Linked DNA regions of Homo sapiens: region 2 is reported to be linked to region 1. The links are microRNA targets in miRTarBase. Many come from high-throughput screens and were not tested one by one. Region 1 holds a microRNA gene; the other region holds the end of a gene's coding sequence.
The links. Region 1 holds the annotated microRNA hsa-miR-3150a-3p (CUGGGGAGAUCCUCGAGGUUGG, at 2,766-2,787, shown strand). A microRNA usually pairs through its seed, bases 2 to 8, with sites in the 3' UTR of a target mRNA and lowers its output. Matches are read on the target gene's strand: a 7mer-m8 pairs with bases 2 to 8, a 7mer-A1 pairs with bases 2 to 7 and ends in A, and an 8mer does both.

Region 1 (5,233 bases):
CACTAGCAAGTTATTACATTTAACCTCTCCGTGCCTTCATTTTCTCATCTGTAAAATGGCCTAGTGATAGTGCCTACTTCCTAGAATTATCATGAAGGTTAAGTTAGTTAATAATTGTAAAGTGCCGAAAATAGTGGCTGGCACTTACTAAGTGTACATATGTGTTTGCCATTTTAATCTATTTATATACATACTGTGTCACTTTCAGAGAAAACCAGGTCACTAGATTTTATCTTTTGGAATATTGCTAACATTAAGCTTTGAAATTTGATATTTTCCATCTTGGATGCTTTAAGATTTCAGGTTATCAAACAAATTTAAGAAAGTAAACACATTTTTACTTCTTCTAACTTCAGAGAATGAGCTTCTAAAAATGAGTGTTGAGTTTCTTTCCACTTTGGATTATGAAATTAAAAAGATATACATAAAACAAAACAAAAATCACATAAAAATCCATGAATTCAGAAGCTATATTTGAAATAAACAGGCTAGATGGCAGATAATATATACTAAAACCATTAACGTCACACATAAGGATTATAATATATCAACAACTTCAAGCTGGGCAGAGAATTTCTGGTATCACAGTTCACTTCTATGGGTCTTTGCTTTGCAATTCAACTGAAATTAAAAACAGAAAAACTCTCTATTGGTTTTGAAGCATATCTCCCATGATTTTTTTCCTATTCCCCTCCCCTCCCCGAGTCATCTGCCCTTTATTACTTGCCTTGGTCAGAGGGAGAATATAATTTTAGAAAAACACAAGCAGTAAAAAGCAATTTCTATACCAAGGAAATAATAATGGTGATAATCCAGATCACATAGAAATTAAATCTACTTTCCTAAACAGTAAAACCAGCTAGCTTTGCATGTGTTCATACCATATGATTAATATTAAAGCATAAGGCAACCGGCCGGGCGCGGTGGCTCAAGCCTGTAATCCCAGCACTTTGGGAGGCTGAGGTGGGCGGATCACGAGGTCAGGAAATCAAGACCATCCTGGCTAACACGGTGAAAACCCGTCTCTACTAAAAATACAAAAAAAAAAAAAATTAGCCGGGCATTGTGGCGGGCGCCTGTAGTCCCAGCTACTCGGGAGGCTGAGGCAGGAGAATGGCGTGAACCTGGGAGGTGGAGTTTGCAGTGAGCCGAGATCTCACCACTGCACTCCAGCCTGGGCGATAGAGCGAGACTCCGTCTCCAAAAGAAAAAAAAAAAAAAAAAAAAGCATAAGGCAGACACTACCAGCACTGCACCCTCATTAGCCAGCCAGCTTTGCAGACTCACCACCCCCACAGGCTGTCCTGGAGGTTCCTACGCCTGCAGTGGGAGCTAAGAGGTCAGCTGTTGCCCCAGAGCCGACCCCAGTAACCTTTGCAGCTTCCCTGAGGGCTTCAGGGACCTGCACCCTGTTTAGTGGGCACAGAGAAAATGGCTCATGTCCTGGAAATACCCAGCCTGGCTCCATTGGGCTGTAAGTAGTTCCTGGCAAAATTCCTCATTAGGTAACAATTTGGATGGTGGTGGAGATGTGTCCCTCCTACTTTACCCAAGAGGTGGTAGCGGTGTGGCCTGTGGGAATTTTGAGGGCAGCGGGCAAAAGTCATTCCAGTCCCAGGGCTCAGCTCCAGCAGCGCCCAGGGGCATCTCAGAAGCAGCTACATCATCATCTGTACCACCCCACGCCCTGTGCTTGTTTAGGGCTGAGATCCTATTGGGAGGCATTTGGGGAGGAGGTGAGCTGCGCTGGCAGAAGGTTCAGGGCCGGTCACTGGGGATTTTCCTGCCACTCACATCCCCTTCTTTCAAGTCTTCTTTAACTCTGCACAGATGGGAGTAACAGAAGATGCTGGTTTCCACCTCATCATTTTTTACCTTCTCACCCCCAGAAATTAATCTTCGCATAAACCTCAGGACCAGCACAATGCCTGTCTCAATAAAATGTTAGTTTCCTTTCCTTCTGTATCTCCTGCCTTCCCCTTCCTGGCCACCTAAGACACAGGGCCGTTATGTTGCGGTGCCCTACTTCGCAGCACCCCCAGACCTGCCCAGGGCTGCTCCCCATGCCAGAACCCTCCCTGTCCCCTAAGAACCTGACTATCCTTTGTTTCATTCCCTAAAAGCCTTACTTTTCAAGGCTGAGGCTGCAGCATCCTTTATACTGGTATACACTTTCATGTTTACAAGTGTCATTGGGCATCTACTGGTACTCATCTTAGTTACCCTTGTAACAGAGCCCTTAGATGTCAAACCAAAGCAGTGACTGACACTGAGATTTGTGGCTGCCTGGGTAGGTAGAGAAGAGAGAGAGAGTAGAGTTGACCATGTTTCTCAGCTCACAAGTTCCTATGATGGCTTGGAACCCTGACCAGCATTTTCTTCTGAAGCAACACCCTCGTGGTATGTTCAGCCTTTTTCTAGATCTCTCCAAGACAGAGAAATACTTGTTGCTCCTGCATTGAGGTTGGGCAGATGGGCATTACTGGGGCACTAGTGGCCAAGTTGCCCTGATCCACCCACCTGAGACCAGGTATGTGTGTGGTGGTGCAAGCCACTGCTTTTTCAGGCTGGTGCTGCTGGATGAGAAAGTCCCAAAGTTCTATCATTGAAGGAGCAGCACAAGAGTGAGGACAAATACCTTCACAGGCAGCAAGAAAGTGGTACACAGCAGGGAGGGCAGTGGGCACCTGGGGGAAGAGCAAGGCCCGAGGAGTGAGGGGAAGCAGGCCAACCTCGACGATCTCCTCAGCACCTGAACGCCAAGGCTGGGGAGATCCTCGAGGTTGGCCTGCTTTCCCTCCTTTTCTTACAACTTCTGGAGAAGCGTCAGCCCTCTGCAGGGAGGCGGCCAAGCTGGCAGGCGAGTCGGCGAGGGTGTCATTGCTTATATGGCTGCGGGGACCGAAGCTAGGAATAGACGCGCTGAGGGCTAGGAGGGCTCCGACCGGACGGAAGGATGCCGCATCGCGGGTCGCTGCCCGGAGCTGTGCGAGTTCGGTGCTCAGCCCCAACGGCGCTTTAGGCGGGTCCCCTAGGTTCTCGCCCTTGCGCGCGCAGCCAGGACAGTGTTTCTGCGCTTCCTGAGGCCAAAGCGGGTCTCCCCGTTTTTTCCTCTGGGGATGCCAAAAGCCACTGGAAAAGACAGGAAGCTGTCGCCCCGTCGCATTCTCAGCAAGATGAGGCCGAGTAGGCAGCGCCACCTCTCCCGAGCGCCCGCGCCCCGCTGCCCCAGCCGGGGAGGGACTGGAGGTGAAGTCGCAGGTGCGCTCCCCAGGGAATATCCGGGCTCGCAGACCACGCGGCACCGCCCCCGCCTCGCCCCGCTGCTCCTCCTCCCCCATTCCAGGTGTCTCCTTTTCCGCTTGCCCCTTAAACGTCCCCCTTCCGCAGGGGTCCTGCGAACCCCATCCACTGCCATGGCTCATTCTAACACCTTCACTGGGTGTCTTTTTGCATAACACTTAAAATAAAAATGGATCTGAATCTGATCCCGGCTTCCAGCTTACAGGACATGTCGAGGACAGAGGCACAAGTGAAAGTCCACCCAAGGAATGCAGTCAGCAAAGCCACGGTGTGGGGAGCTCTCTCCAGAGGGTAGGGGAGAAACCCAAAGAGTAAAAGAGACTTTAAAACCTGCCAACCAATCCCAACCTGATGTCCTAATTTGAATCCTGATTCAAATCAACTGCTTTTAATGGAAACTTAAAACTTTAGTGGAAATTTGAACCTGACTTGATATTTGATATAAGAAACCATAGTTAATTTTTTAAGGCATGATAATGGCATTGTGCTTATTTTTAAAGGATAGAGTCCTTATTTTTAGAAATTCAGACTGAAATATTTATGTCTGGAATTAGCTTCAAAATAACGCAGGGAGAAGTGGGTAAGGGTTGGGATGGAACAAGGTTGGCTATGATTTGATCGTTGTTGAGGCTGGGTAATGAAAACATGGGAGTTCGTTCTAGAATTATTTCTACTCTTGTATATTTTTAAAATTCTCTATAATAAGGTTTTAAAAAGAAGGAGAAAAAAAAATGGATATATTCCAGCTGATTAGTCTCAACGTTTTCAGGGCCACATACAAGTAGGGCCCTGAAAATATGTTAATTATGTGACTTAAGATCACCTGGGAGTCCTTTTCGTTACTGACTTGTGCGACTTGTGTGGCTCGTGTGCTCTCATGCTTAATTGGATTGGTCTTTAATCTGGGGCCAGGGAAGTGTTTGACCTGTGGCTGAGATTTCCACCTCTCTGCACTTCCCTTCCTGAACACCAACCAAAAGTGGCCCTGGGTTTCTAACCACCTGAAGATGACTTTCCATCTCCTCCAATGTCCTATGTCTAAAACTGTACAGCCTTATGCACTACCTCCTAACTTCCCCATTTCTATGAATAGCAGAGCATTTCCTCTGCCTCTGTCACAGACTAGAAGCCATCTAGCCATTTTGACTTCCCCCTCCTCTTTTCTCTGTCCCTCCACTTAGTCACCAAGTTCTGTGGATTCCTTGTTCACTGTTTCTCAGACTCATCTCTTCCTCTCCACTCTCACTGCTGTTGTCTAATCCCAGATGTGGATTTTCTCTGTTACATTTACTTCCTCACTGGTTTCCTGTCCTTAGATTCCTCCTTCCAGCGATCCCACCTGCCACTGCCCATTGGAGAGCCCTTAGATCAAGGGCCTCATGTTATGATTAGGCTTTGCAAACTCCAAATTCCTTCTTTTACAACCTCAAAAATTTCATTCAAAGAAAGCAGGAATGATTATCAGGCAGCCAGCAACCCCACCCCTCAAATAGAGTCTAACGTGAAAAACATTATTTCTCAATTGGTAAGCAAACACATCCCTCACTGATTGTTGGTAGGTCAACAACGGCCCAGACTTGGACAGCTGACAAGCAGAACCCAGGGTCACAAGGATCCCATTCATGTGGGTCAACAGACAAATGAAAGAGCTCAAATGACAGAACAGTCCAGAGATTCCTGCTGATTTTTCTAGCGTGCTCTAAAATGGAGCAATACACCAGGTTTCTAAACCATGGACACAAGACGTGACAAATGACTTTCAGATATGTGAATTCATTCATTCAGATGAAATTTACAAAAGCATACAATAATGTCATTTTTAGTTATACACTTAAAATCATCTTTATTAAGAAAAAAATACATTAAATAAAATTAGGACCATACAGGAAAATTCAGTCTGTCAGGTCACCAGGGCCAAATACACAGTCTC
Region 2 (5,000 bases), not on the chromosome of region 1:
GGCTGAGGTGGGAGGATCACAGAGCCCAGGGGTTCGAGGCTGCAGTGAGCTATGATCACCCCTGCACCTCAGCCTGGACAACAAAGCAAGACTCTCTCTCAAAAAAAAAGTCGCCTGCCTGCCTGCCTGAAACAGGTATAGAAATTCCTAAGGTCACTGAGAACCTGAACCAAAGTGGCTGTGGGTCAGTGACCGGCCGTGACTCAGGCGTTAGGGGAACGACATAAAGATCCCAGTCCCTGGCAAAGCCCAATTCCAGCAGGAGCTGCGCAGGGCAGCTCGAGGCCCAGCCTGGGGACCTGTGGCCGCACAGACCCATGGTGCCCTCTGGGGGCCACTAGGAGGGGGCGCACTCCCCCACACCATCTTCCTGTGCAGTGGCCCAAGACGGTGGTGGAGCGGGCTGTCCGTCCCCAGCACTTGCCATTCAAAGTGGCTGCCCTTCATGGGTCTGTGTCCAGCGTCCCCACAAGTTCCCCCATCCCTGCAGGACATGCCTTGGTCCGTACCCAGCCTAGAAAGCAAGATCTAGTTGCATTCTGGCTCCAGATGAGGGATCCACCATTTCCTCTCTTGAGAGGGTGAGTGGGGGGTTGAGAGAAAGTGGAGGTAGGAAGGAGGGAGCGGGCCCCTTGGAGCCTGTGGGTAGCAGGAATACATTTTTGAATAAACATTTAAAATTAAAATAATTACCAAAAAAAAGCAGACATGCTTCCAAGGGGCTAGGACTCAAACAGAAATGATCACTTACCCAGGCAGCTGGACCTCCTAATTCCGGGCCACTGCTCACGGCCTGCCCTGCTCCGCCTGCTATGAGCAGCCACAGGCAGGCTTGGGGGAGTTACCCTCTTACTGGAGCCCTTGAGGACCCAGGTGCTGTGAGCATGGGTTGCATCTACAGGGATTTCACTCGGCTCCAGTGGGTCCACAGGCAAGCATAAGCTGGCGCCTTAGCCGTCTCCAAAGAAAACACCTCTCCAGAGGTGGCAGGTACCAGTCTGCTCCTGCACCGACAGGGCTAACACTGAGATTGTCCTTTTTGAGGCTGTCTGGTTTCTTTCCTGCATTCAAATCTTCTCCTGAAGCTTTCCTTTAGGCTCTCGGCCTGGAAGGCCAGTTATCCTTTTCCACATTAGTCCCCGTGCCAGATACCAGGTGGCTAGAGCTTTCTCAACGGAACCAGCCCAAGCAGGAAGCCCCGGCCTCTCCCTTTCAGGCTGCCTTTCAAGTCCGCTTTGCAGGATCCAGATGATGTTTAACTGGAACCAATTGTTTGTAGAATCAAGGGCATGCCCCCTCAGGGGCAATCCCCTGAAATTGTCTATTCCAGCCCAAGGGGCTTCCGACCCCACCCCCTCCTCCAGGCCTGCAGAATGGCTGCGGGTGTTGTAACAGGCCTCAGATAATGAGTCTACATTTTTCCAAGGTGACGGTCACTTATTTCTGCCCCTCCCCCACCTCCCAGCCTCAGCGGCCCCCTTTGTGTCCCGTCTCCTGGTCATCCGGAGTCCTCCGGGACTTCCGGGCCAGATGAGCAGTGGAAGCACTGAAGCAGGCCGGCATTAGCCCCGCCTGGCGAGGGGGTATGGGGGGTGACCATTTAGTAACCTTCTTTGTTCAGGCTTCTTCAGGCTCTTCCCCTTCTGGTGACAGCACTCATGGCTGGCCTATCTGAATTCATTTCGCAAGTGACATTTCCTAAGACAGCCAAGCTTTACAGATGTCACTCTGTCTGGGGGCCAGATGGTGAGGTGTGGGGGAGACATGCCTTTTCAGGTTTGAAGGAGAACCCAAGATCATGACCATAAAATGCAAAGACCCAAGCGTGTGTTTAGGAACACACACTTTGCAAATAAAGAGGCCTTGTCCAAGGATACAGAGATATTATACAGAGCCAGACAAGTCTGACTGCAAAATGCATGCTCTTCGCTGGCCAAGGGAGACTCCTTTTCTAGCTTAGGTTGTGGTTTTATAACATGGCCAGTCCTGGCCAAGTGTGGTGGCTCATGCCTCTAATCCCTATACTCTGGGAGGCCCAGGCGGATCACTTGAGGCCAGAGTTCCAGACCAACCTGGGCAACATATTGAGACTCCATCTGTACATAATTTTTAAAATTAGGCAGGTGTGGTGGTGAGCACCTTCCCAGCTGCTTGGAAGGCTGAGGTGGGAGAATGGCTTCAGCCCAAGAGTTCAAAGCTGCAATGAGCTATGATTGAGCCACCGCACTCCAGCTTGGGCAACAGAGCAAGACCCTGTCTGTTTTCAAAAGAACACCACAGCTAGTCCTTATTGAGTATTCTTAGAGCTGGCATGTAACTGAACTTGAGCGGCTCCTCTAGTTAGATCTGATGAGTGCCCAGAACCCAGAGGCACTTGCTATGTGCCAGGCACTGTTCTAAACGTTTCCCATTCTACCCCACCCACTTCTCACCACAGTCCCGTGACGGAGGTGCTATTCCTACCACTCAAATTTTGCAGAAATGGACCTGAAGGGCAGGTAGGATGAAGTAACCTGCCCAAGGCCACGGTGAGCGTCAGGGCAGAGCAGTCTACCTCCAGAGCCCTCACCTTGCACCCCAAAGCAGAGCCAGCCGGGGAGACTTTGAGGGTAGAGACACTAAACAAAAGCTTCCTTACCTGTAGGATGATATGCCTGGACAACTTGCACAGTCCCATCCAGCTCTGACCATTTGAGCATGTGACTCTGCTTCTGGCCACGGTCTAAGAAAACCCTCTTTGAAAGGCAGGTTCAGGCACCCACCTGAGAAAATAAATAAAAATTATTTTCATGCCCCCTCCCTGCCTCCAGCAAAATTTCCTACAGACCTAACAGAGGTCTGTGGCCAGGAAACTTCAGTCCCAAGAAACGAAAGACCCCTAGGCTCATGTCCTGACAGCCTCGGTGACAAGCCTCAGCAGCCCTAGGGTCGCATACAGAACCTGCTCTTCTCCCTGTGGGGACGAGTCCTAGGAGCTGTATATGAAATACCCTTAGGCTGAGAAGTTACCGTTTCCTTCCCTGTCCTTCTCTGAACCTAGACAACATATCGGGGCTGCAGACTCATTAGCCTGGATACCATTAAACAAACATACCAAAGTATGTGTAAAGCCACCAGGTTACCTCTGTTCCCAACAAATGGAAGGGACCAAGTGACCTGGAAGGAGCTGGGAAGGAAATGAGGCAGTTCTAGCTGGCTTCCAGCCACCACACCAAGCCCCTCGAGGTGACCATAGCCACCTGCCACTTCTCCCGCAGACTCCTGGGCTGGGAAGCCCTAGACACACTGCTCACCTTTGACCTTGATACCAACACCTTCCAAATTCCACCAGGCAGCCAAGACCCACCAGAAGAAACGTCCAGGTGCGTGGATTTCAGAACACTCACAGGCAGCTGATCTTTCTAGAATGTTATTTATTAAAAATAGATTCTCTATCCTTCCCCTCACCCCTGCGAGCAAAGTGGCCTTTCCCAACATCTTTTCCCAAATGGATGAAACAGGTCTTGAGGACGCAGATGTGGCATTCTACATAAACTACAGGATCAGGCTTTTCTGGGACAGTGGGTCTGCTGGAGCCAAGAGTGGAACAGCACAAGACAACATCAGCAAACCCTGGCGCACCTAACCGCGGGCTGCCATGGATGCCGGGACGGACTGGAGTTCCTCCTGCTCCAGGTACAAGTCCACAAAGAGAGACCCAGCGGCCCAGCAGCAGCCTCCTGGGCACCACCAGAAAGCGATGTACTTAAGGGCCTCAGGCGGTCGAGAGGCAACGTGGCTTCCACATGTGTGGGAATGAGACTAAAAAGCTGGCTCAAAGCAAAATATGAACTTATAGGAAAGGAGGGCCCTGGACTGGGCAGGAAGAGAGAGACTCGTGGCAATTCTAGAGATGGCAGTGCCCAGCCATCAAGTTCTAAAGAGACCCATTTGGGAGTGACTCTGCCTTTAGCCAGGTTGAGCTCACAGACACACAGGCCCAGAGGCCGAATTCGCGGCCAGCTTCCAGGTGTGCCGGGGCCTCTCGTTGCTTTTAACAGTCCAGCCAGAGAGGGTTCAGTTAGTGAGAGTATCTTCCCATGATCAAACACAGATGCCCGAGTTTCTCTTCACTATTTCTTCCGCTTCAGTTTCATATCTTTTTTGTTCTTTGTCTCTCTGTTCTTCAACTTCTTGCTCTGTTTGGGTTCTTGTTTGGCCTCTAACTTCCTTTTCTTGTCACTAGAGAAAAATCAAAAATAGAAAGAATGAAATATGTACAGATCTGAACATCTGAGACTGCTTTAAGCTTGCTTTGCTTTGTCAAAAAGGGTTTCCACCGTCTGAAACTTGATGTAGGCCACCCAATTGGACATTAATGTTCTCTGCAAACCTATTAGGGGGCAGGCATTGTGCTGGGGCTGGGGACACACCATACAGACCAGCTCCTGCCCTGAGCCAGCTCTTAGTCTGTGGAAGAACAAATCTCGATCTTAACACCTGAAATCCGGGTTCTCCTCAGGGTGCAGTACACTCTGCTCCCCTCTCCCAAGACAGACCTAAGGCACCACAAGGATTCCCCACCACCACTCTCACCACTGCAGTGACTCTGGAAACTAGACATATTCATCCCAATGACCCTGAAGACAGTCCTTAATACAAGGCATGAGACTCCAAGGAAAACCCTGCCATACTTTCTGATGTGCTACTATTATTTTATTTTTCCTATATGAGAAGAAGAAAACCCAAACAACAGTAACTCAGGTGACACCCTGCGACCAGCCCCTGGATTCTTCATTGATATCCTGGCATAGGAATCACTCAGCAAACGGCCACCTGCCATTAAGAAACTTACAGGTTAAATTTTGCTCTGGGAACAAATACTTCCCTATAAGGAGACCGTGAAGAGTTCAGTCCAGAGACCATTAACATCATATGAATGAAGTACCTCTCAAAGGAAGAAAAAGAAAGGCCTCAGAGGACTTAATGATAGCTACCAGTATTTTTAGCTCACAAAGTTC

Region 2: miRTarBase lists NAT10 as a target of hsa-miR-3150a-3p. The part of its 3' UTR that is shown has no 7-base or 8-base seed match.

What each region holds. Positions count from the first base shown.
Region 1 is chr8:95,070,197-95,075,429 of GRCh38, forward strand. It overlaps MIR3150A (microRNA 3150a), which reads left to right and starts at 2,718; the gene lies at 2,718-2,797. MIR3150BHG (MIR3150B host gene) reads right to left here and starts at 2,986. Exons shown (of 2, transcript NR_132986.1): 1 at 2,733-2,986. MIR3150B (microRNA 3150b) reads right to left here and starts at 2,800; the gene lies at 2,715-2,800. It overlaps LOC124901980 (a long non-coding RNA gene), which reads right to left and starts at 2,057. Exons shown (of 2, transcript XR_007061013.1): 1 at 1,550-2,057; 2 at 453-621. It also overlaps a transcript of NDUFAF6 not described here. RefSeq lists a silencer at 3,193-3,292.
Region 2 is chr11:34,145,305-34,150,304 of GRCh38, reverse strand. NAT10 (N-acetyltransferase 10) reads right to left here. Exons shown (of 29, transcript NM_024662.3): 29 at 3,397-4,221. The coding sequence ends at 4,113. Among named protein-coding and RNA genes, the nearest start is that of NAT10, 42 kb to the right of the region's middle. RefSeq lists enhancers at 1-385, 4,695-4,864.